Homo sapiens: one gene and its partners. The protein of the gene in region 2 interacts with the protein of the main gene of each other region in a pairwise test. Each region holds a gene or a part of one and is shown on either strand. Other genes may lie near its edges.

Evidence for each region.
Region 1: the proteins of CAMK2D (region 2) and FXR2 interact in binary tests that used the Homo sapiens proteins (3 or more experiments, as listed by UniProt).
Region 3: the proteins of CAMK2D (region 2) and FNDC3B interact in binary tests that used the Homo sapiens proteins (3 or more experiments, as listed by UniProt).
Region 4: the proteins of CAMK2D (region 2) and MOAP1 interact in binary tests that used the Homo sapiens proteins (3 or more experiments, as listed by UniProt).

The regions. Positions count from the first base shown.
Region 1 is NC_000017.11:7,597,072-7,606,202, forward strand, and holds part of FXR2 (RNA-binding protein FXR2), read right to left. Parts: intron 9,079-9,131; coding exon 9,026-9,078; intron 8,668-9,025; coding exon 8,574-8,667; intron 7,010-8,573; coding exon 6,938-7,009; intron 6,835-6,937; coding exon 6,686-6,834; intron 5,932-6,685; coding exon 5,838-5,931; intron 4,455-5,837; coding exon 4,338-4,454; intron 1-4,337. UniProt on the Homo sapiens protein: mRNA-binding protein that acts as a regulator of mRNAs translation and/or stability, and which is required for adult hippocampal neurogenesis. Specifically binds to AU-rich elements (AREs) in the 3'-UTR of target mRNAs.
Region 2 is NC_000004.12:113,512,593-113,521,723, forward strand, and holds part of CAMK2D (calcium/calmodulin-dependent protein kinase type II subunit delta), read right to left. Parts: intron 5,066-9,131; coding exon 4,971-5,065; intron 2,600-4,970; coding exon 2,477-2,599; intron 1,322-2,476; coding exon 1,238-1,321; intron 779-1,237; coding exon 736-778; intron 1-735. UniProt on the Homo sapiens protein: Calcium/calmodulin-dependent protein kinase involved in the regulation of Ca(2+) homeostatis and excitation-contraction coupling (ECC) in heart by targeting ion channels, transporters and accessory proteins involved in Ca(2+) influx into the myocyte, Ca(2+) release from the sarcoplasmic reticulum (SR), SR Ca(2+) uptake and Na(+) and K(+) channel transport.
Region 3 is NC_000003.12:172,398,724-172,403,446, forward strand, and holds the end of FNDC3B (fibronectin type III domain-containing protein 3B), read left to right. Parts: 3' UTR 1-2,946; downstream 2,947-4,723. UniProt on the Homo sapiens protein: May be a positive regulator of adipogenesis.
Region 4 is NC_000014.9:93,180,877-93,189,991, reverse strand, and holds MOAP1 (modulator of apoptosis 1), read left to right. Parts: upstream 1-5,094; 5' UTR 5,095-5,182; intron 5,183-5,278; 5' UTR 5,279-5,433; intron 5,434-5,629; 5' UTR 5,630-5,749; coding exon 5,750-6,805; 3' UTR 6,806-7,793; downstream 7,794-9,115. Other genes in the region: LYSET (lysosomal enzyme trafficking factor), read right to left, coding at 3,321-3,732, 4,507-4,586.

The DNA of each region.
Region 1 (9,131 bases), on a different chromosome or scaffold from region 2:
CCTGGTGACAGAGCAAAACTCTGTCTCAAAAAAAAGTGAGGGGTTAAGAAAAACAGAAAACATGCCTCTAGAACACCAGGCTTTCACTTCATTTCTCAATCAGTCCTTAGAGGAACCCCTGGGTTCAGGGGCAGGAAGACAGGAAAGGTTTTAGAGGAGTGAATCCCATGTTGTAAGCACCAAATAGAAACAATACCTGAAAGGAGACATTCCTAGATTGAAATACACTACTTCCCACTTCCAAGTTGGATAGGACTGAATTATACCAAGGATTTATACCAGGCAAGAAGAGAAAGTTGGAAAAATAAACTAAGTTGAGTGTTCAAAATCACTACATTAGGAGGGGAGGGGAAGAGATCTACAATGACCTATAAGCGTCTTCTAGATAAGCTTGCAGAACAGCTGGGTTTTCTTTTTTTTTTTTCTTTTTTTTGAGATGGGGTCTGTCACCCAGGCTAGAGTGCAGTGGCATGATCTCTGCTCACTGCAACTTCTGCCTCCCTTTTTTTGTATTTTTAGTAGAGAAGGGGTTTCACCATGCTGGCCAGACTGGTCTCAAACTCCTAACCTCAGGCAATCCACCTGCCTCGGCTTCCCAAAGTGCTGGGATTGCAGGCGTGAGCCGCTGCACCCGGCCCCTTTCCGGTTTTTAGAGGCTTCACTACTAGGCATGACTGATTAAATCACTGATCCTCAGTGATTGCCTTAACCTTTGGCCCCATTCCCCTCCCAGGAAGTTGGTGGGGGTGAGGCTGAAAGTTCCAACCCTCTAATCATGAAGCCACCTAGAGGGGCTAGCCATGAATCAACTCATCAGCACACAAAAACACACATCACTGGAGATTCCAAGGATTTTAGAAGTTGAATGCCAGGAGCCTGGTCAGGAGACCAAATATGTATCTCTCAGTATCACAGAGCCTGTCAGTCCTACTGGTTTTACTCGTAAAATTTATCCTACATAAAACTACTCTCTCTCTCTTCCTTTAGCACTCCAGTTCAAGTTTCTCACCTGGACTACTGTGCTCTGTTCCTGCTTCCATTCTTGCCCCCCTTTCCATCTGTCATTGAAACAGGAGTTTAAAACAGAAGGCACTTTCGGCCGGGCACAGTGGCTCTCGCCTGTAATCCCAGCACTTTGGGAGGCCGAGGTGGGTGGATCACGAGGTCAGGAGATCAAGACCATCCTGGCTAACACGGTGAAACCCCATCTCTACTAAAAAAAAATACAAAAAAATCAGCCGGGCGTGGTGGCAGGCGCCTGTAGTCCCAGCTTCTCGTGAGGCTGAGGCAGGAGAATGGCGTGAACTTGGGAGGTGGAGCTTGCAGTGAGCCGAGATCACGCCAATGCACTCCAGCCTGGGTGACAGAGCGAGACTCCGTCTCAAAAACAAAACAAAACAAAACAAAACAAAAAACCAGAAGGCACTGTTAACTCAATGGCTTCTCAGTATACGCACAATAAAATCCCCCCTCCTCAGCCTACCGTACATGTCTTACATGATCTACTCTCTGACCGAATTTTGTATCGGTCTCCCTTTGCTCACTCTGCGCTAACTACACAAGCTGCAGTGAGCTGAGATCGCACTACTGCACTCCAGCCTGGACGACAGAATGAGACTCCGTCTCAAAAAATTAAAAAACAACAACAAAAATTAGGCCGGGTGCAATGGGTCATGTCTATAATCCCAGCACTTTGGGAGGCCAAGGCAAGTGGATCCCTTGAGGCCAGGGGTTCGCGACCAGCCTAGCCAACATGGTGAAACTCCGTCTCTACTAAAAATACTGAAATTAGGGCCAGGTATAGTGGCTCATGCCTGTAATCCCAGTACTTTGGGAGGCCAAGGCAGGTGGATCACCTGCGGTCGGGAGTTCAAAACCAGCCTGGGCAACATGGTGAAACACTAAAAAAGCAAAAATTATCCAGACGTGGGGGCGCGTGCCTATTATCCCAGCTACCTGGGAGGCCGAGGCACAAGAATCGCTTGAACCCAGGAGCGAGAGGTTGCAGGGAGCGGAGATTGTGCCATTGCACTCCAGCCTGGGTGACAGAGGGAAACTGTCTCCAAAAAAAAAAAAAAAATAGCCAGGTATGGTGGCATGCACCTGTAATCCCACCCACCCAAAGGCTGAGGTGAGAGGATCACTTGAGCTCGGGGGGTAGAGACTGCAGTGAGCTGAGATCGCACCACTACATACACTCCAGCCTGGATAACAGACTGAGACTCCATCTCAAAACAAAAAACAAAAACAAAAAATAAAGTTTGTATCATCTGAAGGTAATGGTGAATTTTTACCTGCCAGTGCCCTGAGCAGGATCCCTGAAGAAGTCAAAGATTATCATGACCCAGAAATTGCACAGGCACAGAAAAAAGCCTCCCAAAAAGATCAATTCCCTTGATAAATGGAAATGGTATTCAAACACACACACCCTATTCACTTAGAATAGTATAATACCAACGAAAGGGAATCTGACAATTATACGATGTCAGAATTCAAAAAGATCTCACAGAAATACTCTAGTCAGGCCAGGCGTGGTGGCTGACACCTGTAATCCCAACATTTTGGGAGGTCGAGGTGGGCGGATCACCTGAGGTCCATAGTTTGAGATCAGCCTGGCCAACATGGTGAAACCCCATCTCTACTAAAAAAGACAAAAATTAGCCAGGTGTGATGGCACACACCTGTAATCCCAGCTACTTGGGAGGCTGAGGCAGGAGAATCGCTTCAATCTGGGAGGTGGAGGTTGCAGTAAGCCAAGATAGCGCCACTGCGCTCTAGCCTGGGCGACAGAGACGCTATCTCAAAAAACAAACAAAAAAACAAGAAATATCCTTTTTTTCTTTGAGATGGAGTTTCACTCTTGTTGCCCAGGCTGGAGTACAATGGTGTGATCTCGGCTCACTGCAACCTCCGCCTCCCAGGTTCAAGCGATTCTCCTGCCTCAGCCTCCCGAGTAGCTGGGACAACAGGCGCCTGCCACCACGCCTGGCTAATTTTTGTAGTTTTAGTAGAGACGGGGTTTCACCCATGTTGGCCAGGCTGGTCTTGAACTCCCGACCTCAGGTGATCTGCCCGCCTCAGCCTCCCAAAGTGCTGGGATTACAGACGTGGGCCACCGCGCCCAGTCATATCCTTTTTTTCTTTGAGACAGAGTTTCACTCTTGTCACCCAGGCTGAAGTGCAATGGCGCAATCTTGGCTCACTGCAACCTCCACTTCCCAGGTTCAAGCGATTCTCCTGCCTCAGTCTCTCGAGTAGCTGAAATTACAGGCATGTGCCACCACGCCCAGCTGATTTTTGTCTTCTTAGTAAAGATGGGGTTTCACCAGTCTCGACTCCCAACCTCGGATTGATCTGCCTGCCTCGGCCTCCCAAAGTGCTAAAGTGCTGCGATTAAAGGCGTGAGCCACCGCGCCCACCCTAAAAAATAAATATTCTAGTCTAGGCTGCATGTGGTGGCTCACACCTGTAATCCTAGCACTTTGCAAAGTACAGGCAGATGGATCTCTTGAGCCTAGAAGTTCAAGACCAAGGCCGGGCGCAGCGGCTCATGTCTGTAATCCCAGCACTTTGGGAGGCCGAGGCAGGTGGATCATGAGGTCAGGAGTTTGAGACCAGCCTGGTCAACATGGTGAAACCCCATCAATACTAAAAATACAAAAATGAGCTGGGTGTGGTGGCACAAGCCTGTAGTCCCAGCTACTCAGGAGGCTGAGGCGGGAGAATCGCTTGAACCCAGAAGGTGGATGTTGCAGTCAGCTGAGACTATACCATTACACTACAGCCTGGGTGACAAAGTGAGACTCCGTCTCAAAAAAAACCATTCAGCCAGGTGTGGTGGCTCACGCCTGTAATCCCAGCACTTTGGGAGGCTGAGGCGGGTGGATCACATGAGGCCAGGAGTTCGAGGCCAGCTTGGGCAACATGGCAAAACCCCATCTTACTAATAATACAAAACTTAGCCGGGTGTGGTGGCGCACGCCTGTAATCCCAGCTACTCAGAAGGCTGAGGCATGAGAATCGCTTAAACACAGGAGGCAGGGGTTGCAGTGAGCCGAGATCGTGTCATTGCACTCCAGCCTAGGCGACACAGCGAGACTCTGTCTCCCAAAAAAAAAAAAAAAAAATTGGCTAAAAGAAATTTGAAAATAATTGCACTATACCATGATAGAGCTCTGCCATCTGGAGGAGTCTGAGATAAAATAGCTGACCCAGGTTTAATTGCCCAGAAAAAGCCTTAGTCTTTGTTCTGTAAACACAAGATCATGGATGGAGGACAGGGTAGGAAGGGAGGAAGACAATACCCTTCAGCAGAAGGAAAAGGAGCTAAAAGTTACCTCTAGGTGCTTGGTAGCTTCTTCATTGCGGGACATAAGTAGCAGTTTGGTGCGCAGGCTTCGGAAATGCATATCACCCAGCAGAGATGCTCGCTTCACAGGGGCTTCTGTGGTTGACTGGGAGGAAACCAGTGGGAAAGTCATTAAAACTGGCTTGGAATAAACACTAAGGGAGAGCCAGGGACTAGAAATCAGGATGCCTAAGTCCCGGGAAAAGGGTTAAGAAATGAAGCTAGGAGACCGGGCGCGGTGGCTCATGCCTGCAATCCCAGGACTTTGGGAGGCCAAGGCAGGCGGATCACGAGGTCATGAGATCGAGACCATCCTGGCCAACGTGGTGAAACCCTGTCTTTACTAAAAATACAAAAATTAGCTGGGCGTGGTGGCACATGCCTATAATCCCAGCTACTCCAGAGGCTGAGGCAGGAGAATCGCTTGAACCCGGGAGTCGGAGGTTGCAGTGAGCCGAGACTGCGCCACTGCACTCTAGCCTGGTGACAGAACAATACTCTGTTTTCAAAAAAAAAAGAAATGAAGCTAGGAAGGAGGAGACTCATTGTCAGTCCCACAAAGGCTGACTATCAGGGTACTGAAGGAAAATGGTTTAGAGAGAAAGCAAGGAGCAAGCATAAGGTGAGAGCTACATACTCTATTTCTGAAAGTCCAAATATCAAGAGAGGGTCTCTAACCCAGATGGCAACATGATTATCAGGTTTAAAAAAAAAGGGTCAGAGGCCGGGCGTGGTGGCTCACGCCTGTGATCCCAGCACTTTGGGAGGCCAAGGCGGGCGGATCACGACGTCAGGAGTTCAAGACCAGCCTGACCAATATGGTGAAACCCTGTTTCTACTAAAAATACAAAAATTAGCCGGGCATGTCGGGCGCGGTGGCTCACGTCTGTAATCCCAGCACTTTGGGAGGCCGAGGCGGGTGGATCAGGAGATCAGCAGTTCAGGACCAGCCTGGCCAACATGGTGAAACCCTGTCTCTACTAAAAACACAAAAAAAAATTAGCCAGGCGCAATGGCAGGCGCCTGTAATCCCAGCTACTCGGGAGGCTGAGGCAGGAGAATCGCTTCAATCTGGGAGGTGGAGGTTGCAGTGAGCCGAGATCGCGCCACTGCACTCCAGCCTGGGCGACAGAGTGAGATTCCATCTCAAAAAAAAAAAAATTAGCCGGCGTGGTGACGCACACCTGTAATCCCAGCTACTCAGGAGGCTGAGGCAGGAGAATTGCTTGAACCCGGGAGGTGGAGGTTGCAGTGAGCCGAGATCGTGCCATTGTTCTCCAGCCTGGGTGACAAGAGTGAGACTTCGTCTCAAAAAAAAGAAAAAAAAAAGGTAGGGCTACCTGGGCCTGTAGGAGTCAGGAGCAATAAAGTCCTCTTGACAAATAAATATAAGCACATTTAAGCCCTTCTCTTTCTGCAAAAGGGTTAAAAAGGGAAAAAGAAAAAATGTTCAAAAGGCTTATGTGAAATTCAGGCAGAATAAACTCACCAGAATGAAGAGCTCACTGTTTGTGATGTTGAGAAAGATGCAGTTGGCTCCCAGGGCTTTCTTGAACTCTTTATGGACGTTTTCATTGGAGCAGCTGCAGAGGAAAAAAGTACTCAGCGGGCAGAATGCAGAGAGTACAGTGAAGAGTTCGGGGGAGGCTGGACATGGTGGTTTGCACCTGTAATCCTAGCACTTTGGGAGGCTAGGGCAGGATGATCACTTGAAGTCAGGAGTTCAAGACTAGCATGGGCAACATAGTGAGACCCTGTCTCTATTAAAAAAAAAAAAAAAAATTCAGAGAAGCAGGGCTGAGTAAATAAGAAAAGAAAAGGGACTGGGCCGGGTGCGGTGGCTCACGCCTGTAATCCCAGCACTTTGGGAGGCTGAGGCAGGCGGATCACTTGAGGTCAGGAGTTTGAGACCAGCCTGACCAACATGGAGAAACCCTGTCTCTACTAAAAATACAAAATTAGCCGGGTGTGGTGGTGCATGCCTGTAATCCCAGCTACTCGGGAGGCTGAGGCAGGAGAATCGCCTGAACCTAGGAGGTGGAGGTTGCGGTGAGCCGAGATTGTGCCACTGCACTCCAGCCTGGGCAACAAGAGCAAAACTCTGTCTCCAAAAAAAAAAAAAAAAGAAAGAAAGGAAAAGAAAAGAAGAGGGACCACAGTTAAAGAACAAGGATGGGAAAATAAAGAAACTAAGTGTCTTCTTAGCAAGAAGGGCTCTAGTAGAGGGCCAGGGGAACAACAGAGAAAACTGCAAAGTGGGAGTGATGCCTGGGAGAAATAAAGCCAGAGATTAGGGCTGTAAAGAGGGCCCTCATTCCCACCATCCTTAACACTCACGCTTCTCTCAGATCCTCGGGCACAGCCATGGTAACCTTGAAGAAGCTGCCTTTGGTTGCAAGGGGATTGGGATTAACTGGCCGAAGTCGCTCCAGGGTAACAATTTCATTGTAGGTGGCATCACAGGCAGCATATTCAATGACATAGAACTGGCACATGGTAAAAAAGGAGAAGTTGTGGATGACCTGAGCAACTTTCTATGAATAACATATTTGTTTCAGTAGTTCTCCAAAGGCATTCCCAGTCACTCACATCTCCCTTCATCATCCGCACCCGGGCCAGCCACCAGCCACAAGGTTCCTGTTCATTGGCTCGAGAATAAACCTAAAGAAAAGTAGAGAATCAAAGAGATATTGAAGACCACCCAAAAGCATCAAGAAAGGGATGAGGAGGCCGGGCATGGTGGGGCTCACACCTGTAATCTCAGCGCTTTGGGAGGCTGAGGCAAAAGGACTGCTTATGCCCAGGAGTTCAAGACCAGCTTGGGCAACATAAACAATAGAACAACCATTAAGATATTTGGGGCTGCTGGGCACAGTGGCTCAAGCTTATAATCCCAGCACTTTGGAAGGCCAAGGTGGGAGGATCTCTTGAGCTCAGGAGTTCAAGAACGATCTGGGCAACACAGTGAGACCCCACTTCCACGAAAAAAAAAGAGGCCAAGCGCGGTGGCTTATGCCCATAATCCCAGGACTTTGGCTGAGGTGGGCTGATCACCTGAAGTCAGGAGTTCAAGACCAGCCTGGCCAACATGGTAAAACCCCACCTCTACTAAAAATACAAAAATTAGCCGGGTGTGGTGCCACATGCCTGTACTCCAAGCTACACAGGAGGCTGAGGCAGGAGAATCACTTGAACCAGGAGGTGGAGGTTGCAGTGAGCTGAGACCGCGCCACTGCACTCCAGCTTGGGCAACAGAGTGAGACTTCATCTCAAAAAGAAAAAAAAGGTATTTGGGATGCATCTTTTTTTTTTTTTTTTTGAGACAGAGTTTCGCTCTTGGTGCTCAGGCTGGAGTGCAATGGCACAATCTCAGCTCACTGCAACCTCCACTTCCTGGGTTCAAGCGATTCTCCTGCCTCAGCCTCCCAAGTAGCTGGGATTATAGGCGCCCGCCACCACGCCCAGCTAATTTTTTGTATTTTTAGTAGAGATGGGGTTTCATCATGTTGGCCAGGCTGGTCTTGAACTCCTGACCTCAGGTGATCTGCCCCACTCGACCTCTCAAAGTGCTGGGATTTCAGGTGTGAGCCACTGCATCCAGCCTGGGATGTATCTTAAACCAAGGATACAAGAAACCAGAGGAAGGAACTAATTAAAATCAGAGGACGGCAGGGCATGGTGGCTCATGCCTGTAATCCCAGCACTTTGGGAAGCTGAGGCGGGTGGATCACCTGAAGTCAGAAATTCAAGACTAGCCTGGCCAACATGGTGAAACCATGTCTTTACAAAAATGCAAAAATTACCCGAGCATGATGGCAGGTGCTTGTAATCCCAGCTACTTGGGAGGCTGAGGTGGAAGAATTGCTTGAACCCAAGAGGCGGAGGTTGCAGTTAGCTGAGATCGCGCCACTGCACTCCAGCCTGGGCAACAGAGCAAGACTCCATCTCAAAACAACAACAACAACAACAACAAAAAAATCAGAGGGCACTGGATTTTAGATGTTGTTACCATAAATGGAAGGCAAATCGCCTGAAACTGGGGATGTTCCTGAGAGTTTGGCTGATCACAACAGTGATAAAAGGGGAACTGTTGCATTTTACATTTCCATAGGCTACATGGCTGGATATGGCTTAGTTGGGGAGGAAGGAACATGAACCAACCAGAGAAAAGCCTAGAATCCTGGGGAAAAGTGACATTTAGAAAGGTGTACTCCACAGCCCTTACCTCCACTTCATCCCCTTCTGTGATCTCCTTATTATAGTCAGCTGGAGGTGGTAGCCGGACATCCCCAAAAGGAATTTGTCTCTCACTCTGCCAGCTATAATAGAAACAATAATATGAAAAAGCTACTCTGACTGATATGGTTGCCCATTTCTTTACAAAAGGGTTATTGCCTCAGCTGGGCGAGTTCCACCTATCTGGATAATTAGAGGCTAAACCCCAGGCCCTGCTCCATAGTAGTGTCTTCCATCTCTTTCTAGACTCTAAATACTGGGTCAAATGCCCCCACCCTCACCAAATTCTCAGCCCTTTCCTCTCCTGGGATCCATATGAGTTCCCACCCAAACCCTCAGCTCTCCCAACCTATTACATGCCTCATAGGACTCAGCTGCCCCCTCTTCTCCACTCTCCTTCTAGGACCTAGTATGCTGGATTCTCTATTCCCAAGGTCTTACTTGTTTTCAAAGAAGATGGTGACAGAGTCTTCATGGACATCCTTCACAAAGCCCTAGAATGGATTTTAGAAAAAAGCAAAAAAAATAAAATGACCTTTTACTTCCA
Region 2 (9,131 bases):
AGACGGAGTCTCGCTCTGTCGCCAGGCTGGAGTGCAGTGGCGTGATCTCTGCTCACTACAACCTCCACCTCCCTGGTTCAAGTGATTCTCCTGCCTCAGCCTCCCAAGTAGCTGGGACAACAGGCACGCGCCACCACACTCAGCTAATTTTTGTATTTTTAGTAGAGACGGGGTTTCACCATGTTGGCCAGGATGATCTTGATCTCTTGACCTTGTGATCCACCTGCCTCGGCCTCCCAAAGTGCTGGGATTACAGGCGTGAGCCACCACGCCCGGCCAATAATGGTCTTCTTTTAAAAATCTTGCATACTAGGATTCCCTATGAAAATGAGACCAAAAATAACTTATTCAAAGTTATTACTTTATGAAATATCAGTAATAAATTCTAGGTTTGAAACGCTGAGATCGTAAATGAGGGAGTATTTATTTCCACAACTCGTGCGCACCCCAGCACTTGACAGATGAGGCTAGTCCTGCACCAGCACTGACTGGTGGCCACTGCTGCCAGAAGCAGTCTTGTGAGGGGTTCAGTCACGGAGGCTCGGCAGCAGACAGCACCCAGGTAGACTGCTAATGGCAGCCATAGGTGTAGAAGGAATCTGTGCCACACATTTGCCACCCCTGAACAATGAAGTTTTTCTAATTATTAGATTTTTAAAATTCCAGAGACAAAAAAACAGAGACTACTTAAAAAGAAGACCAAGGGATAAGAAGCAGAGTTCCCAATGCATGTACCTGAGAAATTCCTTGTAGCCAGCATAGTTGTCAAGATGGCACCCTGTGAAAAAAATTAGAACACAAAAGTCAGTGTTGCCTATGCAAATTCTGGACCTAACAAATATAGAGTCTTTGATAACAAATCTTTTCCTGGCCCTACTTTCAGTTAGGGGATTTTTTATTGTTTGTTTTTGTTTTTTGGTTTCCTGAGAGTCAAAGGCCTTTGTCTCTCATGATGCTGGGACGGCCCTAGTGTGCGGGCCAGATTCTGATTATCAAATTGCACAGCTGTTTTCCACTGAAGGAAGGATCCACAGCATGTGTTGCCAGGATGATTCCAGCTTTTCACCATAGTTTTGATTCTGGTGTATATTCCATTTCCCAAGAGCCCCAAAAAGAATAATGAGAGTATTGAGGTCTACATAATTGAAAGCCTTTGCTAGAAGTTATTTTCCTCACACAGTATTTCACTTCTTAGTCTGTCAAATCTACCTCCCCATAAAAATGTAAAATTTCTTACCTTTAGTTTTCTTCTAGCATTAAATTTCTTCAAGCAGTCTACAGTCTCCTGTCTGTGCATCATGGAAGCAACAGTAGAACGTTGCTAGAAGAAGAGGAGAAAAAGTAACTTAATTGAGAATATTTAAAACACACTAAGTATAATAATGTCCCTGACTTCATCAAATATTTATTAATGGTGCTGCACCTGCAGGATCAACTTCTAAGTATTCAATTGCCAAAGTTACCTAAAAATAAAATTTTAGTTTTGCCAAGACTACTTGTGACCAAGATGCAACACTGACGTATAGAAAGTATAGAAATGGGCCGGGCGCGGTGGGTCACGCCTGTAATTCCAGCACTTTGGAAGGCCAAGGCGGGTGGATCACGAGGTCAGGAGTTTGAGACCAGCCTGGCCAACATGGCGAAACCGCATCTCTACTAAAAATACAAAAATTAGCCGGGCGTGGTGGTGGGCACCTGTAATCCCAGCTACTCGGGAGGCTGAGACAGGAGAATTGCTTGAACCTGGGAGGTGGAGGTTGCAGTGAGCCAAGATCGTGCCATTGCACTCCAGCCTGGGTGACAAGAGCAAGACTCTGTCTCAAAACAAAACAAAACCAAACCAGAAAGTATAGAAATGAATATTAATAATTTCTCAAATTATCTTTATTTTAATGTCTTCAATCACATTTTGATTGAGCTGCCTTTCATTTACTTAGTGCCACATTTATCACCTTAGCATTTGACACATTTGGAAATTTACTGAAGTCTCCAGATCCCCCTCAAATTTCACACTATTCTTCTTAATATTTCTAAAATATATTCAGACTACTATGACCATTATTTTACGCCACTGAAACTCTACTGTCAGCTGCCAAACTTCATACTTGTTTCTAAAGTTGCCTAATGATAAATAATTGAACTTTGTTAAATCTTTTCTTCTGGGACACATTTAATTTTGGTGTTATTTTCTTAACCTTGTTCATGAGTATTGTTAATAATTGATATGGAGAATACTCATTCCTTTTGTTACTGCAAGCAATATTTATTTAAGAATCTATGCAATTCAGACTTTGCTACTGAAAATTGCATTTTTTCACCATCATAAAATTAATTTTCTTAAACACCTCGAGTCAAAAATTCATTCATTCTGAGTTTCATCTTTTTTTGCAAAGCTATTTTAAATCCATAAACAATATATTAAAGGAGAGCTTATTTTTCATTTTAGTTCTTGAAGTTTTGGAGAAGTTTTACTTACACAGATCCATGGGTGCTTCAGTGCCTCTGAGGCTGTGATGCGTTTGGCAGGGTTGATAGTAAGCATTTTATTGATGAGGTCTTTGGCTTCAGGAGTCACCGTGTCCCATTCTGGTGATGGAAACTTCAAAAATATAAATTTATAAAAAGTTTAAAAAATAGACACACTCGATCAAACAGGGAAGAGTCAACTACATGAATCATTCCCTCAAGTAGTGAATTTCTTCATAAATTTACTTTTTATATAAGTTAAGTTGTATCTAAAATAAATAAAACCATTTAGATCTATTCTCCCCCTCTATGTAGACAACTATATATATTAAAGAGTATCTGATAAGGGACCAACATATGTACTGAGCTGCATATCACATATGGTAAATACATTTTAAAATTCAGAAAAAAAGAACTTAAGAATCTTCTATTCTTCTCAAAGTATCTCTGCTTTGATCTGAAAATGAAATTTTATACAATCTTTCTCATAATTATTTGCAAAACTTAATAAAAGCAAACAGGTTGCTACATGTACCAATGTCATCATGATATTATGCCAAGGTTCAAAATGAGGTATTATATACTTTCACAACTCATAAGCAGTAATAGCAGAGGTAATAAAACAGCTTCAATTCCTGTGCCAAAACTGACCTATTAATCAGGGCTACTTGGAGTGCTGTAGTGAGAAGAATCTGAGACTACAGGAGCTTCAGCAAGATTTCATTTTAACCCTTCAAGAAGTTTAATCTGCCCAATTACAAATTTCACCAAAGTATATGAAAGTAATCAAATCTTATAACTTCCCATTACTAATACTTTTTTATATTAAGACTATATAAGAAAGCTACTTCTCCTTTCTTTACATTATTTTTTGTAGTGATAATTACTTAACTTACTTTTATATGATTAGCATATTTAGTAGAAATACTGTCCTTCAACGATGAAGGGAAATTTACACCACATTAGTTGCAAAATGATAGAATATCAGGTTATTTTCCCAATTCATGAATTTGTATGGACAATCTTGAAAAATAAAGCCATTGCCACTGTGTCATGGAATTAAATTAGTCCATTTTTAGTAGTTTTAAAATGGGGAACTTGTGACTCACTGGCATAATAAAGCATGAGAAAAATGATATTGACTCTAATATCTGTAATTTTTGCCAGCTAAACAATTGCCATTTTTTAATTCCTGAAGCTTATCTTTGGCAGTTGTAAAAGCTTGCTAACTATTAGGAGCTGTTAAAGAAACACACGAGGCTGTTTCTTAATGTTGTACAGGTCTTCTGATAGCAAATGAGCGGTAGGTTCAGCATGAAGAAAGGTGAACATTTTCCTCAGTTCTCTAATTTTCATGAAAGCATTCCTCTAGGTATACCAAGCAGTGCATTTTCAGGGCTACGTCTGCCCAGAGAGGGGCTGGTTCTAGTCTGTAAAGATGGTGAATGTGCTAGCTATTGCCATGTAAATAATAATTTGTTCCAATTACTAGTCTAGGAATAATGCAATGCTTTGAAATTCAAAGAATATACATTTTTAATTCTTGCTGACACACACATCCATCTAAATAGAAAATTTTTATCAGAAATGCATTGAAGAGTTCACGAGACATTATAGAATATAATAAAGACATTTTATATCTTCTCCTCTCACTTTCACATTGAGCTTTCAACTTGTGCACAAAAGGTGAACCCAATATTGCTACTCTGTAGTTACTCTACTTAATAACACATGGAAAGCATGCCCAGACCCTGCACATGGATTTCCATAGGGCTGTATGAGGGGAAACCTGAGAAAGTGGTAAATCATATTTACAAGAATATGTATCAAAGGAGAGCAAATTATATCATAAACACAAAGTTAAGCCATAAAGAGAAAGTAGATAAAGCCTTCCTCTTCAGATTCTGAACTTAATTTATGAATGTATATATATATATCTACTTTCAAATATTCTAATTATAAATTAAATATATTATTAGAATTATGATTTTCAAATTTTTCAATTGTGAAACTCATTCTTCAAATGAAAGCTTGCATAGTATCCCAAACAGTACAAAAACAAAAAACAAAACCCAGAAACTGGTATAGTGGGATAATGTTCTATTTGATATGTGATCACAGCAAAATATTGTTGGTATATAATATAAAATTATGTGATAGATATTTGAGAATATAATTCAACTAAACAGGCAATAATCATTTCTATAGCAGAAATATTTTAATTTTTATGTTTTTAAAATGCACTAAGGTCCAAATATTTTGACAAAGTTCTTCCTCAGAGACTTCACATGGCTTTTCTTTCAATCTTAGGAGACAGTGAGTTAAAAGGAAACGTAAACTGGATACAAATGCTGCATTTCTTTCTCCCTTTCCTTAAGAGAGAGGGAAATAATATGAGAAAGTGGTAAAAATTATGGTTAAAAGAAAAATGAAAAGATCTGGCTCTTGGTCAACAGGCAAAAGACAAACCTTCATCTAAAGTGATATAAATAGTTATTACATACATCATAAGCTCCAGCCTTGATCTGCTGATAGAGTCTGTGTTGGTCTTCATCCCAGAAGGGTGGATACCCCACAAGTAGAATATAGAGAATGACACCTGGAGGAGAATATAATGTTAACACAATTTAAGTCATATAGACAACAGTAAATTAAATGTGGCTGATCCACAATGATATTAAGCCGTAGTTGTTAAAACAGAGAAAACTGGATTGTAGGAAAACTTCAGAAAGATGTGTTATGATCTAGTCTAGAGCAGTCTCTGGAGGGTGAATGCTTCTCCTCCTATGCTCCAGAACTCTGACAATGTGTCAGTCAATGCATGCATCAAAGAATTCTAAAGAGGCATGGCAGGGCAACATTCATTTAGGGCAACATTCTTTGGCCCCCCTGAACTCTTGTCTATAGAGGGTCTTACTGCATTCTTATCTATATAGAGACTATGATTTTAGTCACTGTGAGGTTGAAGTTTAAAAACTAAGCATGTTTTTTATTTCCTCATACTTGTTTTGATGGTCATTGGGACATTTTGTTGAGTGATGGTGTCCTGGTTATAAATCCACGTTCTAAATAACCATAGTCCCTGCAAATGTGGGTACCCCATAGAGACAAAACCCTTTTCTTTTCAGTAATCTTAGTCTTCAAATACTTCAAGCCTTCTCAGTCAAACAACTAAACCAACAAGACTACAGAAGAATATATATTATGGGAGAGGAAAAAGGGAGAGAAGGGAGAAATTCCACAGAAAATTCAAAGTAATAATAACAATAAACACATGGCTGTAATAAAATTTGCTAAAATTTTTCACAAACATAATTATTTATAAATTAACCAAAATCTAATTTCACTTTTAAAATTAAAAAAATTCTGTATTCACAGTTTGTAAATTTCCCTGAAATCATATCTGCAGTCTAAATGTCTGAGATTGTTTTGATACAGTGGTCTTCTCTGTCATCAAATATCTCTCCTGCCACTTTTCACGTATTTTATTGCCTTGCTTAAGGCCTTTGGTTTCTTTCCTAGCTCATTATCCTGGAGGAAGGCAGTCATTCCTCTGACCTCTCCTGTTTGCTTTTTTCTTGCTATGTTTCCTTAAGCCTAGGAAACCTGAGAAGAAGAGTAAGACAGGTGACACTTTGCCAGGTGTACCCTGAGACTTATTTTTTCCCTTATCCAAGGTGGTCTCTTGGTCTCTGTACCTAGGAGATCTATCCCTGCTCCTGTCCAGCAGTCTGGACATCTTTATACAATAGACACTGTAGCAGCTGAAATGGTTTTTAAGCAATGGTTTAATCATCTTAGAATTTTATAGCCTGCTTCAGGAAGATACAGTTCATAAGCAGATTTTTTAAGTCATGTGAATCAATACAAGGATAAAAAATTTTAAACAACATTCTTAAGGAAAAAAAAAAGACCATGAAGAAAACCACAGTATATTGGTACCTCACCTTCATGACATAAAAATAATTTTTCCATACATCTAATGAAAATGATGATAGTAATGATGATGATGAGTGTTTCTCTTTGTGTTCTCAGGAGGCAAGTAGAAAAAAAGCTGTACCTGAGTAGTTTTAGCCCTCAGCTATATAAGGTTCCAGGAGGTTAAGAAGAAAATTTGCTTTGTAATAGTGATAGTTTCCATTGAATATGAACATTTTCCTAATACACATCTGGAATTAGGCTGTTATAGAATTATGAAATAGTGGCTCAACTGAGACATTTAGCATTCTCAACATAGGCTGTTTGTCCTTATGAATTATGTCTGCAGTTGACAGTTGATGTGGTGCTTCTCTGGGAAGAGGAAGCTCACAGAGGGCTCATTCCATGAGAAAAGCAGGCAATATGTAATAGATGCCCACAATTTAGCTGTTTGATGGAGGAGTGTTTACAAAAACATGTACTTTAAATAAAATAATAGCATAAATGTGAAGATTAAAAAAAACACTTTTAGGCCCAAAGACTTAAAAAAAAAACATATTATAGGTGCTATTGACTAGCCTGATGTGAAATTGTCAGTGCCTATTTAAATAAACACCGTTTTGTAAGTTTACTTCAACTTGATTATTAAACAAGCATCTAAAACCTTTCTGAGTTATGCTATTTTGTAGTTCTATTTTCTGAATGTATAGAACAAGTATGAGACTCATGGCATAAGGATAATGTAATACTAATAAATTTTATTGTAGATAACATTTATTCAGAGTTATGTGTGCTTTAATGCATTATCTCATTTAATCCTTGTATAATGCTATGAGGTAGATATTGTTATTATCTGCATTATATTATAGATGAAGAAACAGGCTGAGAGATTAAGTAACTGTTTCAACCACAAGCAGGACAGACATAATGATGCTCTAAACATTCCCTGCAGCCACTTTTTCTTTATCTATGAACTTTAGTAGGAATGATAATATAAAATTTAAAACTTTGTGTTGTCTAACTGAGAGACCTTGACATACTAGCAAAGATGTCCATTTGGTCCTATCTTAAATGTTCCTTGCAGCTACTTTTTCCTTTAGCTAGGTCCTCTAAACAAATGCTTATTTTAAAAGTGTTTGTTGTTCTAGGCCGGGCGTGGTGGCTCACACCTGTAATCCAAGCACTTTGGGAGGCCAAAACGGGCAAATCACCTGAGGTCAGGTGATCACGACCAGCCTGGCCAACATGGTGAAACCCTGTCTCTACTAAAAATACAAAAAAATTAACCGGGCATGGTGGCACATGCCTTTAGTCTCAGCTACTCGGGAGGCTGAGGCAGGAGAATCGCTTCAACTCAGGAGGTGGAGGTTGCAGTGAGCCAAGGTCGTGCCACTGAATTCTACCAGCCTAGGTGACAGAGTCTTGTGACTCTGCCTCAAAAATAAAAATAAAATAAAATAAAATAAAAGTGTTTGTTGTTCTAATTGAGTTCTTGCCTCATGAGTAAGCCCAATTTATCTTTTTAATAAACCTAAATTTTACCTTTTTTCTATGTCAGAGAAAAAAGAAAGGAAAAAATCACTAGCTCTTTTTCTTTGCCCATATACCTAAAGTACTAAAATCATTAAAAGTCAATGAAGAAGTCTTTTTTTTGCGAGACCACTTGAGGGGTGATGATGTGACCTCCAAATGTTGGGTATCTCTCATGACACTAGCAGCCTTTTATGATTACTGCCTACATAATTTTACTGGGGTTGCAAAATAATGATGGCTGGGCATGGTGGCTCACACCTATAATCCCAGCACTTTGGGAGGCTGATGTAGGAGGATCACTTGAGCCCAGGAGTTCAAGATTAGCCTAGCCAACATAGCAAGACCCTGTCTCTTCCAAAAATAGAAAAATTTAGCCAGGTGTGGTGGAATGCACAGCTAGTCCCAGCCACTTGGGAGGCTGAGGTGGGAAGATCACTTGAGCCCAGGAGTTCGAGGCCACAGTGAACCATGATCACATCACTGCATTCCAGCCTGGGCAACAGAGTGAGACTCACAAACAAACAAACAAAATGATGATACTCTAATTATATCATGCTTTCTTTAGACTAAGAAAATCTTGCTCCTTATCCACTTGGTTGGCCTAAGATACAGTTCATATAGGAAAGATAGGCTATTATTTATTTATTTTCCTCTTTACTAGCCAGTTTTTAAAATAACGCATTGGCTCCCCAACATCCCCCAAAGGTTAGGACTTCTGTTGAATTTTGATTATCATTATCAATTCCTGGATTTAAACTTACTTGATGTATTTCAATCTATTATGTTATTTTTCTTATTGATTCTCAATTGCCCCATCTTTGGCTAGTGCCAGCCTCCTCAAAGTGGTTCCTGCATCTGTTAATATAAACTCTGTGGTCCTTAATAGTTTTTCTTTGTGGTATGACAAGATGCTCCTGGATCATCTTGCTTTTTTCCTGTTCTAAACTTGAAATCAGCTGCTATTACAGAAAGTTCTGGTTCCTTTTAATGGTAAATAGTATCTAGAGACCAAGATTGAGCACTTACATGTGCTGTCTTGGAGCTACAGTTTTCTTTGAAAAATAAATCAAGAAATAAGGAGACAGAAGAGAGAATGGAGCAAAAATTACAAATTAAGAATGACTAAGAGACCTAAGAGACCAAACAAGATTATGACAGGAGAGGATAAATAGGAAAATGACTAGATATTTTGATGTTACTAAGCAATAATTATT
Region 3 (4,723 bases), on a different chromosome or scaffold from region 2:
TGTGCCTCAGTTTTCCCATGCATGAAAAATAAAATAAAATAAAACGGGGATTCTAATGTTTGTAAGTGCTTTGAGATCTTTGACCAACAGGTGCTATTGGAGTGCAAAGTGTTACTCTTACGTGTTTATTTTGAGTCATGAGATAATCAATTTTAACCCAAAGTCATTGGATTATTTATATGAAGTCCATAATGTTCGAGTACCTCAGGGACATTTAAGAGTTGGAGGTGCAAATATATTCCAAAAGGGTGCAACAGACACAGTGTATCCCCCTGCTTCTGTTTTTGTATATTTTTGCTACTTGGTTTTTCTTGATCATAGCTATTTTGTGCTTGATCTTTATTGTCTAAGATGCAGTATCCTGTACTAGCTTATAATATTCCCATACCAAAGTCATGGGGAAACAAACATTATTTTGTTTTTGGTTTATTTATACTATATTCTGCATACAGTACTTTAAATGCCAATTACAGTGCAATCTTTATTTATTGTAAAATTTTTTAAGTGTACTTATGTACTAATTTTCCCTTGTAGCATGTTATATTTTTGTGTTTTATACTTTTGTAATTTTAGGTCAGTCTTGTTCCTTGGCAACATCTGTAGTATTATTAATCTTCTGACATTTTCTTATGTTTTTAAAAAGATAAGAGCATCTAGTGCATTAAATGCCAAAAAAAAAATACATTATCAGTGATTGAAACGTTTACATGTACCCAAAAACCATAATCATCTCTTGGAAGAAAATGCTGAGATCAATGAATTATTCTGTGTGCCTATATTGACGTAGTGAGTACTAGAGAGTTCTGTATTTTATTATTGACTATAATAATTAGTTTAATTAGCTTTGCAAACTGATGGCATCAAGGTAAATATATTTTTGCCAAAGTTCTGGCCTTCCAAAACTCACCCCCTTATTTAAATGTGTGCTATGACCCACTATGACCACAGCATCTGCATTTTCTAAAAAATTCCATGCAGGTGTTTTGGGGAGAGGTATTTTTTAAGCAATGAAAATTCAACTGAGTACAAAGCCCCCTCTTGGGGGGTTGGGGAAGTCTCTTTTTTGAAACACTTCAGAACTGCTGCTATAAAGAAATTCTCTAATTGGTTGAATTTTTTTTTTAAGTAAATAGTACTTTAGGCCAAAATTTATATGAATATTTGATCTTCTTGAGATTTTCATACTATCATTTAACCACCAGGAAGCTGAAGTGTGTGAAGTACAAAGCTGACAGCACTTTATTTTATTGCTCTCCATTATTTGGTATTCATTATATTCCTTCAGTCAGAAAATTATTACTCTCTATGGCACTGTTTTTTATCACAAATATGTATATGTGATATTGATATATAACTATATATATTGCCATCACACACGAACAATAAAATAAAGTGTTCTATTAACCTGATCTCTTTGCCCTTTTGCTATGTGAGGAGTGAATGAGTGGCCTTCTGATGCTCTGACTCTTCTCTGTATGTCAAACTCATCCCTGGCACAAGAAATTCCAGTCATGTGAAGCAAACTGCCCTTTGTCCTCAAAGAAATTGTTGAAAAAGAAAACTTTTTAAAGAGATTTTTTGCATATTCTCTGCCTTGTTCTTATCAACTTGAAATGTTGGCATTTTCTAACCTTGTTTTGTTGGCTACAATAATTCAGTATTCATGTCAAAATTGAGAAGTGCCCTAATTGAATGTGTTTGAATGTTATCCTTGCACAATTCTTTAAATTGAAAGATAAAATGTTTTACCTCACTGTTGGACATACATTCCAAGCTTTTCAACTCTAGGAGAAAAAGAAAATCATGTTTTCCTGTATTGTAAATTTTAGACTATTTCATATACATTGTATTAAAACTGCCATATCAATTTTAATGTATAGATTTTGCAAATATTATGCTATATGTAATACCTAACTGTATCTGTAGTGTATATGTAATATATTTATGCCCAATAAATGTTTTAATTCTTTCTGACTTAAATAGGGTTTTTCTGCCATGACTAGGATTGCTTTTGTTGTTGTTGTTGTTGTTTCTTTCTTTTTTTTTTTTTTTGAGACGGAGTCTTGCTCTGTCGCCAGGCTGGAGTGCAGTGGCGCGATCTCAGCTCACTGCAACCTCCAGCTCCCAGGTTCAAGTGATTCCCCTGCCTCAGCCTCCCAAGTAGCTGGGGATTACAGGCACTCGCCACCATGCCCGGATAATTTTTTTTTTTTTTTTGAGTTGGAGTCTTGCTCTGTCGCCCAGGCTGGAGTGCAGTGACCCAATCTCGGCTCACTGCAAGCTCCACCTCCCGGGTTCATGCCATTCTCCTGCCTCAGCCTCCCAAGTAGCTGGGACTACAGGTGCCCGCCACCACGCCCGGCTAATTTTTTTAATTTTAGTAGAGTCGGGGTTTCACCATGTTGGCCAAGATGGTCTCGATCTGACCTCGTGATCTGCCCGCCTCGGCCTCCCAAAGTGCTGGGATTACAGGTGTGAGCCCCCGCACCCAGCCTTATTCTTCCCTTTTAAATACTTAAAGCACATTCAGATTAGTTGAAAATTCACGTGTTTTTGGAGGCCAGGCAGGTGGCCTTCTGCAGAGACAGCAGCAGCTCAGCTCTTGCTGACCAAGGCCTTGGAGGACTGTGAGCCACAATCACATATGTCCATGTTTCAAAAGAAGCTAAATATCCAGATTTCCTCCATGGGCCAACTAAAAGGTGATTGTGGACTATACAGGCTGCCAGTTTAATCCTTTATCAGAGTCTCTGTGGATAATGTACCTTGTTGCCTAATACTTTATCTGTCTACCAAAACTCAGTCCAGATCTCCCTCTGTTCACCTGGCACACTGGGTGCTTCCTCTCCCCTGACGAACTCTATAGAGTGTTCATGTCCTTTCCTGCAGGTCTCATTCAACAACAACAACAACAACAGCAATAAAACACAGTGTTCCTGCTATGGCCATGGTTTTGTGATTTTAGATTGTCTTAGTAGGAATTCCCACTATCTCTTTTATTTTTCAGGAAAATGGGTAAAAAAAACTGTCACTTTATTGAACCTCACTTATATGAAGCATGGTAATTATTCTGGGTAAAGATGACAAATTGAGCACATCAAATTTTGAATGCTCCTGACACCACTAAAAGTAAAGGATTTTTTATTTTTTTAAGTCACAACTCAACCCTCAAGACTGGGAAGAAAGAGGAGTTATTGGCACCAGAATTTTGGAAATATGATCAACAAAACTTAATTCTAATTTGGCAGAGGAGAAAATGAGCATCAGTGTTTTTATTCTCAATGCAGGATACCCTAAAGGCTCAAAAATTGACAGCAACATATCCCTTTGAAGTGATAGTGAAGAGAGAGAGGAGGCTAAAATAGTATTGGTTGAAAGCTGTTTAAAATGCAGTTAGATCAATAAAATCCCTCCCCCTTTTTTTTTTCAGCTGGACAAAAATGTCCCTCCTCCCCACCCACCTCCATCACTCTTGCAGAAGCCTAGAGGTGTATCCTCAGGAGAAGGTTCAAATAGAAAGTCCCTGGACTGGGAGACACGATCCACAGTTGAGAATGAAGGCACCATATCAAAAGCAAATTAGTGAACATAGGCTTATGGAAGAACATTACAAAGAGCCTCATGGGCTGGGAACAACAAAAAAGAAATCTAAAAATCTAAAAATCTTCAATGAAATGGTTCAGCCAGAGCACTCTTGGGTAGTACTTTTCAACCTGTACATTAATATCACCTAGAGAGCTTTTCAAAATTCTCGTACCCTACACCAATAAAATGAGTATTGCAGAGGCATCAGTATTTTTTAACACTCCCCAGGCGCTTTCACTGTGTATATGAAATTGAGAACCATTGCTGAAAAGTGAAACTCTCAGTCAGCAATCCCCTATCAGCTTTTTAGTCTTTCATCTTAACCAAGGATAACCTGATATCTGATGAAAGTGTCTAACGTGGATGAAAAGCCCAAAACCAACAACTTGGAAGAATCAGAGACTACATGGAGAAGAAGCTTCAAAAACCTGTCATATCTCCAGAGAGATGAGAAAAGAAAAGGCATCTGTAGAATAAAGATAGACTACTATAGAAAAGGAACTGTTAACAAGAAAATGTTCTTGGAAATTAAACATTCGGTAGCATGGTTGGAAGCTGAAATTTAGCAAATAACCTGAAAATTTGAGGAAAAAAGAAAGGAAAAGATTAGGATCAGACCAGGACCATTCAATATCCAAGTAATAGGAACTCCAGAAAGAACAGAAAGTGGAAGAGAGGAAATCGTTAAACACATGAGTTTCTAGAATAATAGGGTATGGGAGCACACAACACAATGGATGAAAATAGGACTTGTACTAAGGCTCGCCATCTTGAAGTTTCAACACTAGAGAACCTCCCCAACATGAAAAGCTGGTCACATAGAAGGATTGGGAATCAAGCGTGGCGTTAGACATAAGCAGTTGCTTCAAGATTTTGAAAGAAATATAATAGATTTCTCGCCTGCCTACTCTCAGTCAAGTGTAAGCTACCACGAAGACATTTTTTAAACTGGAAACTCCCACAAGTTTGTCTCTCATGCACCTTTTCTCAGGAAGCTACTGGAGGATAAGCTTTCCCATATAAGTGAATGAATCAAAGAAACATCTATGAGATTCTGTTTCCAGTGCTTTTTATTTAGGTCAGAAGTTGGCTCTCTGACCCTATGCCACGAGAGGATTTATGCAACTATCACGTTCTT
Region 4 (9,115 bases), on a different chromosome or scaffold from region 2:
ATTAAGAAAACTTTGCAATACCAGTGGCAACCTCACAAACCTTGCATTACATAACCTTTTTTTTTTTTTTTTTTTTTTTTTGCAATGGAATCTTGCTCTTGTGGCCCATGCGATCTTGGCTCACTGCCACTCTCCCTCCTGGGTTCAAGCGATTCTCCTCCCTCAGCCTCCTGAGTAGCTGGGATTACAGGCATGCACCACCAGCCGTGGCTAATTTTTCTATTTTTAGTAGAGACAGGGTTTCACCACGTTGGCCAGGCTGGTCTTGAACTCCTGGCTTCAAGTGATCTGCCCACCTCAGACTCCCAAAGTGCTGGGAGTAGCATGAGCCACCCCTTTTTAATAGAAATGGGGTCTCGCCATGTTGCCCAGGCTGGTCATGAACTCCTGGGCTCAGGCTATCCTCCCATCTCTGCCTCCCAAAGTGCTAGGATTACAGATGCCACCACTCCCAGCCTACATAAAGCATTTATAAAACAAAACAAAACTGAAATAATTTTCTTAAATCACTGCCTCAAGACTAATAAAACTGGCAACTCTCAATGATTTCCCTCAAATTACTCTCCTTTTTGAGAAGCAGTATAGAATGATAAAAAGCTGGAGATCTGAAGCCAACATCCTAGGTTCAAATCGGCTCTTTCACATACTGGCTATGTGACTATGGACAAGTTATTCCTACGTGTTTCAGGTTTCTTCTGTAAAATGACACTAGTAGCAGTATAATACCTGCCTCCCAGGACTGTTGTGAAGAATAAATGTAAATCACTCATAAACAATGTCTGTAACATGCATACTGAATACTTAAAAGATGCAAGTGATTTGGTCATCTGACCCTCACAAAAACAAGTATTTCAAACTGCTGCTTACTTTGAGGATTCCACGTGTTATATCAAAAGATATATCATTTCAGTAACTAGACCTTTGGAGGCAGTGAGATAAATGAGACTAATTGATCTGAAGGATCTGATCTGCTACTTTTACATCACAAAGGTACCTGCTTTATCTTTTAAGTAACAGCTTGCTATGGAATACTCAGCCTTCCTTTCGGGTTCAGTCAGATGTAGTGGAAAGATGAGGTTGCTAGGAAACTTTCAGATTTCTAGTAGACAAATAGAGAAAAACTTGTCAATACTATTGCCATTTCCATTCTTTGGCATGACTGGGCAAAGAGTACCCAGTGCTAAAACATTTGTCATTTGTGAGAAGCGCTATGCCTCTGTGGTTAGTAACGATGGCGTTAGAATGCCTGGTTATAACCCTGGCTCTGCTACTCGCTGTGACCTTTGGCAAGTTACTTGACTTCTCTGCCTCAGTTTCCTTATCTGTGAAATCTGGATAATAATACCCATCTTATAGGGTTGTTGGGAGGATTACATTAGTTAATTTCCATAAAGCTCTTAGAATAGGGCCCAACAGAATAAGCATCAAAAAGTGTTGATTATTAAAAGCATAAAATGTTTTCCAGTATTAATGACATAACTGTATAAAAATATATCTTGATCTCATGCAGAAAAGAAATGCTACTGTGTCCATGTTTTAGTTATTTGTATTAGTACCAGATGTGAGGTAGTACAAATGCAAAGGAGAAGGTACAGGAACACATCTTCATGTAATTAACCTACTGCCTGATGACCTGACCTTGGGCCAGAAAAGAAAATCAGAAAGATTATGACTTGATAGCATCTTTTAGAGGGGTCTCATGCATCTGATAAGGACTGGACTAAATTACCTGCTATAGGCTGGCCATGGTGGCTCATGCCTGTTATCCTAGTACTTTGGGAGGCTGAGGTGTATCACTTGAGGTCAGGAGTTCGGGACCAGCCTGGACAACATGGTGAAACCCCGTCTCTACTAAAAATACAAAAATTAGCCAGGCATGGTGGTGGGTGCCTGTAATCCCAGCTACTCGGGAGTCTGAGGCAGGAGAATAGCATGAACCTGGGAGGTGGAGGTTGCAGTGAGCTGAGATCGCACTTCTGCACACCAGTCTGGGCTACAGAGCAAGACTCCATCTCAAAATAAATAACATAAATAAATACAGCTAGGCATGGTGGCTCATGCCTGTAATCCCAGGCCTTTGGGAGGCTGACGCAAGTGGATTACCTTAGTTAGGTGAGGAGTTTGAGACCAGCCTGGCCAACATGCTGCAACCCTGTCTCTACTAAAATAACAAAAATCAGCCAGGCATGGTGGTGGTCACCTGTAATCCCAGCTACTCAGGAGGCTGAGGCAAGAGAATCGCTTAAACCCGAGAGGTGGAGGTTGCAGTGAGCCGAAGGTTCCAGTGAGCCAAGACTGCACCACTGCACTCCATCCTGGGTGACAAAGCAAGGCTCCGTCTCAAAAATAATAATAATAATTTAAATAAATAATAAATAACCTGCTAGATTTTCATTGAACACATTGTTTCCATCTTCTATTTGTAAGTTATTTCTAGCCTTTCAACATTTAACACTTAGTTTCTTCCCAGATAGTTTTCTAAATCAGTAGCATTGGAGCGTACGTTCTCAGGGCCTTCTGAGACTGTGTCACAAGTCATGGAAAAAAAAAATTTTTTTAATTAAAAATAGCTGGGCATGGTAGCTCACACCTGTAATCCTAGCACTTAGGGAGCCAGAGAGAGGAGGAAAGCTTGAGCCCAGGAGTTCGAGACCTGCCTGGGCAACATAGCGAGACCCCATTCTCCACAAAAAAGAAAAATATAAAAAATAAAACCATTAAAAGCATTAATAATAATTTAGCCATTACCAAGAGGAAGAACAAATTCTGCTTATCAAGACAGCCATTTCCTCAATAATTTTTTAGCAATGCCTCATAAGCTGACAGCAAGTCTAGACAGCTGGCTTAGCTGCAATAGAATGAATCGGTGTTTTAAGTGTGAAGAATTTTAAAGCAAGCCAAGTAATTGTATAAAATTTAAATTTTATGATCATGTCTGGACCTTTTTACACTTAACACAATGGAAATGTTCATATTCATTTTTTTCCCCAAAGGAAAAATTTCTGAATCATCACTATGTTGCACAGTAGAATAGAAATATGAATTCAGGTACTTAGTCAAGTTTCTAAAGAATGCAAATAACAGACATGATTTAACTTCCAAAATCTGAAGTCATCAACATGATTTTGTAGTACTCTATCTCAGGTTTTACCTAAAAATTCGTTATTATTCAGATAAAGATAGCTCCCTAATCACATGTTTTTAAAAAGCCTCTGCCCCACGACAACTTCCTGAGATCTGTGAAGAAACTGCAGTCTTGTGATCAGACTCCATATAGGACTGGCAGTTTTGTAATCGTAGGGAAAAAACGGTGACTGATTTTACGTGTCAATCAGTTGTAGTCTGCTGATCTGATTAGAAGCCTTGACAAATGCCTGGTGGCGATTGCAAATAACTGCCAAGCATATAGGGATGATACAGTAGCCCACTGTTTTGGGATCAGCTCTTGTACAAGAGTATAGGAACAAAAACATCTGTAAGTAAGGTACCAGAAAAATAACTGTCCACACCCAAAAAGGCAAGGAGAGTAATTGAGCTTTCAAGGAGTGTGTCCATGTGGTTCCTTCAAGGGGCTCCTCAGGGTGCTGTTGAATGTGTTCCAAGGCCAGCCTGTTGTAAGTCTCACTGATTTCAAAAACATAGTAAAATGCTGCTGCACTGGCTAACAGATACAATCCCACTCCAATCCATCCCATCCGCTGACGGAAGTTCATCATTCTCCATGCTCTGTGCCTTCAAATTAAAAAAGAAAATACAATTAGGGTCTAGTAATGCTGTCACGGCAACTACTCCAAATGTACTTGCTTTATCTCCAAGAATTCTAGGCCGGGCGCGGTGGCTCGCGCCTGTAATCCCAGCACTTTGGGAGGCTGAGGCGGGTGGATCACGAGGTCAGGTGATAGAGACCATCCTGGCTAACATGGTGAAATCCCGTCTCTACTAAAAATACAAAAAAAATAGCCGGGCGTGGTGGCGGGCACCTGTAGTCCCAGCTACTCGGGAGGCTGAGGCAGGAGAATGGCGTGAACCCAGGAGGCAGAGCTTGCAGAGAGCCGAGATCACGCCACTGCACTCCAGCCTGGGCGACAGAGCGAGACTCTGTCTAATTAAAAAAAAAAAAAAAGAATTCTAAAATATCCCACTAACACACTTAAGATTTAAAATAATTAAATTAAACACCTATTAAGAAATGTAAAACTTACAGGTTGTTTTGTGTAATACTTACAATCAAGTAAAACAACACACACAAAAAAACAAAAAACCATTGATTTCAGTATATACTGAGTTCTGCTTTTTAACGGGAATCCCTCAGAATAAATCACTGCATCCTACTTAAACAGGTCCATAATACCCGCCCTCCAGAAACTGGAATTAAACTAGTTTCTCACAGCACATTTCACTTTGACAGGTGAAACACTTTCTGGCATAACAGTACTGCTTCAGACGTGAACGCGGGGTGCTACAAGTCAAGCCCCCAAGTTAAGACAGTAACTCCTAAGCACTTACAATGGTCCCGAAAATCTTCCTGTTCCCACGGCAAGCGTTAAAGAGTCACTCAGCTCTGAATAATCGGGTGGCTTTGGCATTTCAGAGAAAGCCAACATAAAATAAATCCCCTGGGTCACCCGGCTAGGAGAAAGGTGAGCGCCGCCAGCCTGGAGCACCAGCTACTAGTGATTAAGAACGGCGTGACTGCGGCGGGTCACGCGCGGCCCGGCCCCCGTCGCCGCCGCCGGAGACCCGCTCTGAGAACCTGACCCGGCAGGGAGGCGTCCCCGCCACTTGGGCCTCCGGGCGGCCGGCCCCGCCCCCTGCCGCGCTGCAGCGCCGGCACGCCGCGACCAAGGCTGCGCAGGCGGCGCCAGGCCCGGGCCTCGCCGCCTTGCAGCGCCGCGAGCCCAGCGCCCGTCAGCGGTCGCCGGCGGAGCCTGCTTGCAAAGCTGAGGTCCCGGATCTCACCTTCCTGTCCCGTGGTGGCCAGCCCGCCCGCCGTCCCGGATGCCGCCGCAGTCGGAGCTTCCGGCTCGGGCCGGAAGCGCGCGCGCCCCGCCCCCGAGGCCCGCCCCTCATGACGTCAGATCGCCCCCGCCCGCCGCGCAGCTTCCCCGAGCGAGACCAAAACAGGTGGAATCCGGGCTGGAGCCGGAGCTCCGGCGGCGCGGGTGGCGGCACGTCCCTCCAGGTGGGTGGCTCTCTGGGTCTGGCGACTCAGCGCTCCTCAGCCTTGCCCCCTGGTGCCCGCTCGCGACTGTCATCGCCCCATCACTTCTCGTTGCAGACAGTACCACAGGCACCTGGAGTACCGGCATCGGTCGCTGTGGCCCCCGAGTGTCCGTCAGAGCCTAGGGGAGCCTGCCCTCCCGCGCCTCGTCGGGGCCCGGCCAGGCACCTTGGCCGCCGGCGCACGGACGCGGGCACGAGCACTAGATCACGGTGAGTGGAAGCGGGCCCGACGCGGCCCTGCAGGCCCGACATCCGCCAGGCACCAGGGCTGGGAGGGGTGAGGGGCGCGCGCCGCAGTGCGGCTGCCCTGGCGTCGCCGCTGGGGGCAGGGCGCGCGGGGCTTGGGGCCTGCACGCTTGCCCTGGACGTTGGCACCTTTAGCTAACCTGTCTGCTCTGTCTTGCAGGCTGCTGGACCTCGGCACGTTGACAAGATTTCTCTGGGGTACCGCGGAGGATTACTTTGAATTTCGGTGGTCGCCTGTGGTCTGGCATATTTAGAACTTAAGTCTATTATTTCGGGCACCATGACTTTGAGGCTTTTAGAAGACTGGTGCAGGGGGATGGACATGAACCCTCGGAAAGCGCTATTGATTGCCGGCATCTCCCAGAGCTGCAGTGTGGCAGAAATCGAGGAGGCTCTGCAGGCTGGTTTAGCTCCCTTGGGGGAGTACAGACTGCTTGGAAGGATGTTCAGGAGGGATGAGAACAGGAAAGTAGCCTTAGTAGGGCTTACTGCGGAGACTAGTCACGCCCTGGTCCCTAAGGAGATACCGGGAAAAGGGGGTATCTGGAGAGTGATCTTTAAGCCCCCTGACCCAGATAATACATTTTTAAGCAGATTAAATGAATTTTTAGCGGGAGAGGGCATGACAGTGGGTGAGTTGAGCAGAGCTCTTGGACATGAAAATGGCTCCTTAGACCCAGAGCAGGGCATGATCCCGGAAATGTGGGCCCCTATGTTGGCACAGGCATTAGAGGCTCTTCAGCCTGCCCTGCAATGCTTGAAGTATAAAAAGCTGAGAGTGTTCTCGGGCAGGGAGTCTCCAGAACCAGGAGAAGAAGAATTTGGACGCTGGATGTTTCATACTACTCAGATGATAAAGGCGTGGCAGGTGCCAGATGTAGAGAAGAGAAGGCGATTGCTAGAGAGCCTTCGAGGCCCAGCACTTGATGTTATTCGTGTCCTCAAGATAAACAATCCTTTAATTACTGTCGATGAATGTCTGCAGGCTCTTGAGGAGGTATTTGGGGTTACAGATAATCCTAGGGAGTTGCAGGTCAAATATCTAACCACTTACCAGAAGGATGAGGAAAAGTTGTCGGCTTATGTACTAAGGCTGGAGCCTTTGTTACAGAAGCTGGTACAGAGAGGAGCAATTGAGAGAGATGCTGTGAATCAGGCCCGCCTAGACCAAGTCATTGCTGGGGCAGTCCACAAAACAATTCGCAGAGAGCTTAATCTGCCAGAGGATGGCCCAGCCCCTGGTTTCTTGCAGTTATTGGTACTAATAAAGGATTATGAGGCAGCTGAGGAGGAGGAGGCCCTTCTCCAGGCAATATTGGAAGGTAATTTCACCTGAGTCTCAGGGAACCACGAAGGGATATGGCAATGAGTAGAGCATGAAGGTAGAACAGTCTATATACTCTTGTGACACATACAATCCCTACCTTGTGCTGCCAAGTAACTCATTTTTGTGCAATTCTCAGTATAAGCCCTTTGTCGTTTCTGTGCCTATTTAAAGTCTCCTAAAGGTGTAATTGACTAGGAAGGATGTAGTTCTACACTGCCATTTACCTATTTAAATTCATCCTTGTGAATATCTTTGTTGTTGTTGTTGAGACAGAGTCTCGCTCTGTCACCCAGGCTGGAGTGCAGTGGCGTGATCTTGGCTCACTGCATCCTCCGCCTTCCAGGTTTAAGCTATTCTCCTGCCTCAGTTGCCCGAGTAGCTGGGACTACAGGCATGTGCCACCACGCCCAGCTAAGTTTTGCATTATCAGTAGAGACGGGGTTTCACCATGTTGGCCAGGCTAGTTTCGAACTCCTGACCTCAAGTGATCCACCTGCTTCGGCCTCTGAAAGTGCTGGGATTACAGGCGTGAGACACTGCGCCCAGCCTCATCCCTGTGAATTTCTTATTGTACACAAGTTCTTTCACTATCTGTGTGCAGTGCTCTGAGGGGACAGACAAGGCTTGGGTGTATATGCCAACCAGATCTCATTGAAGTATCAGCTTGTTTGGTACTAGGTGCAAGTGTAGCATGTCACATGTGACCATGTTGGATCATTGACAATTTTTAGGTATGTACTGACCTACATTTATGATGAAGATCCTGAGCGGAGGTTAAGATATTAAGTTATTTTCCATATGAATCAGAATTATATTGATTCTGTGCAATCAAAACAAAAGGCAGAATAGAATGCTGAGATTGGTTAAGTTTGCAATGACCATCTTGAACCACAGATTTCTGCTATGTGTCATCAAAACATCTAGTTCTGAGTAACATTTTCACGATTGTTATAAAATTATAGGTGTGAACTTCTAAAATAAAGGAATGCTAATAAAATGACTTTGTCTGTTTTGTTTATATCACGGTTCCAAGAGAGATTTCATTTGAATAAAGAGTTCCCAAAGCATGAATCTGCAAACCACTGAACCTACACAGACTTAGTTCCTTGGACTCTTTCCTCTTGGTGCTCAGGGGTAGGAAATTGTTTTCTAAGTGAAGGGACCTTCTACCGAAGCAGTAAAACAATGGGATGAAACAAGACAGTGCACAAATTAGTGCGAGTAGTGCAGATGTATCAGTGTGTCAAATTTGGAAGGAGAAGGAAAGAAATGAACATTGCATGCTGCTGCTTGGAAGATTGGACTAAAAGTTTCTCCATGTACTTTCCCATTTAATCCTCTTGAAAAAAGGTTGAGCAGTATAATCTTAGCACTTTGAGAGGCTGAGGCAGGAAGATCGCTTGAACCCAGGAGTTCGAGACCAGCCTGGGCAACATAGTAAGTACAAAACATTTTTAAAAACTAGCCAGGCATGGTGGTGTGCGCCTGCAGACCCTGCTACTCAGGAGGCTGAAGCTGGAGGACTGCCTGAGGCCAGGAAGTCAAGGCTGCAGCAAGCCATGATCATACCACTGCACTCCAACCGGGTGACAGAGCAAGACCCTGTCTAAAAAAAAATAATAATTAATTTAAAAAATTCCTGCGGTATAGGAAAACTCAGTTTCACACTTGTGGAAATGGGCACAAAAGGTTAGAAATTTGGTCAAGGGCTGGGCGCAGTGGCTCATGCCTGTAATCCCTGCACTTTGGGAGGCCGAGGCGGGCGGATCACGAGGTCAGGAGATAGAGACCATCCTGGCTAACGGTGAAACCCCGTCTCTACTGAAAACACAAAAAATTAGCTGGGCGTGGTGGCGGGTGCCTGTAGTCCCAGCTACTCAGGAGGCTGAGGCAAAAGAATCACTTGAACCCAGGAGGCGGAGGTTACAGTGAGCCAAGATAGTGCCACTGCACTCCAGCCTGGGCAAAGCGAGACTCCGTCTCAAAAAAAAAAAAAAAAAAGAAATTTGGTCAAGGTGAAACATCCTTGGGCCAGAATTCTATCCTCTGTAGTAAGTGTAGTGAGCGATTAGGCCAGAATTCTTGTCTTTCTGCAAGGCCCATGTTCTTTCTACTGCCAAGAAAGAGAAACAATCATCAGGGTATCTATACCGAATAGCCTCACAAGGGAGGCAGGGCAGGCATTGGCTCCATTTCATAAGTGTCCATCTTATGTGCATTGGAGGGGAGTACAGTTGACCCTTGAACAACTTGGGGCTTAGGGGAGCCAGCCCACTGCACAATCTGCACATAACTTTTGATTCCTCAAAAACTTTACTA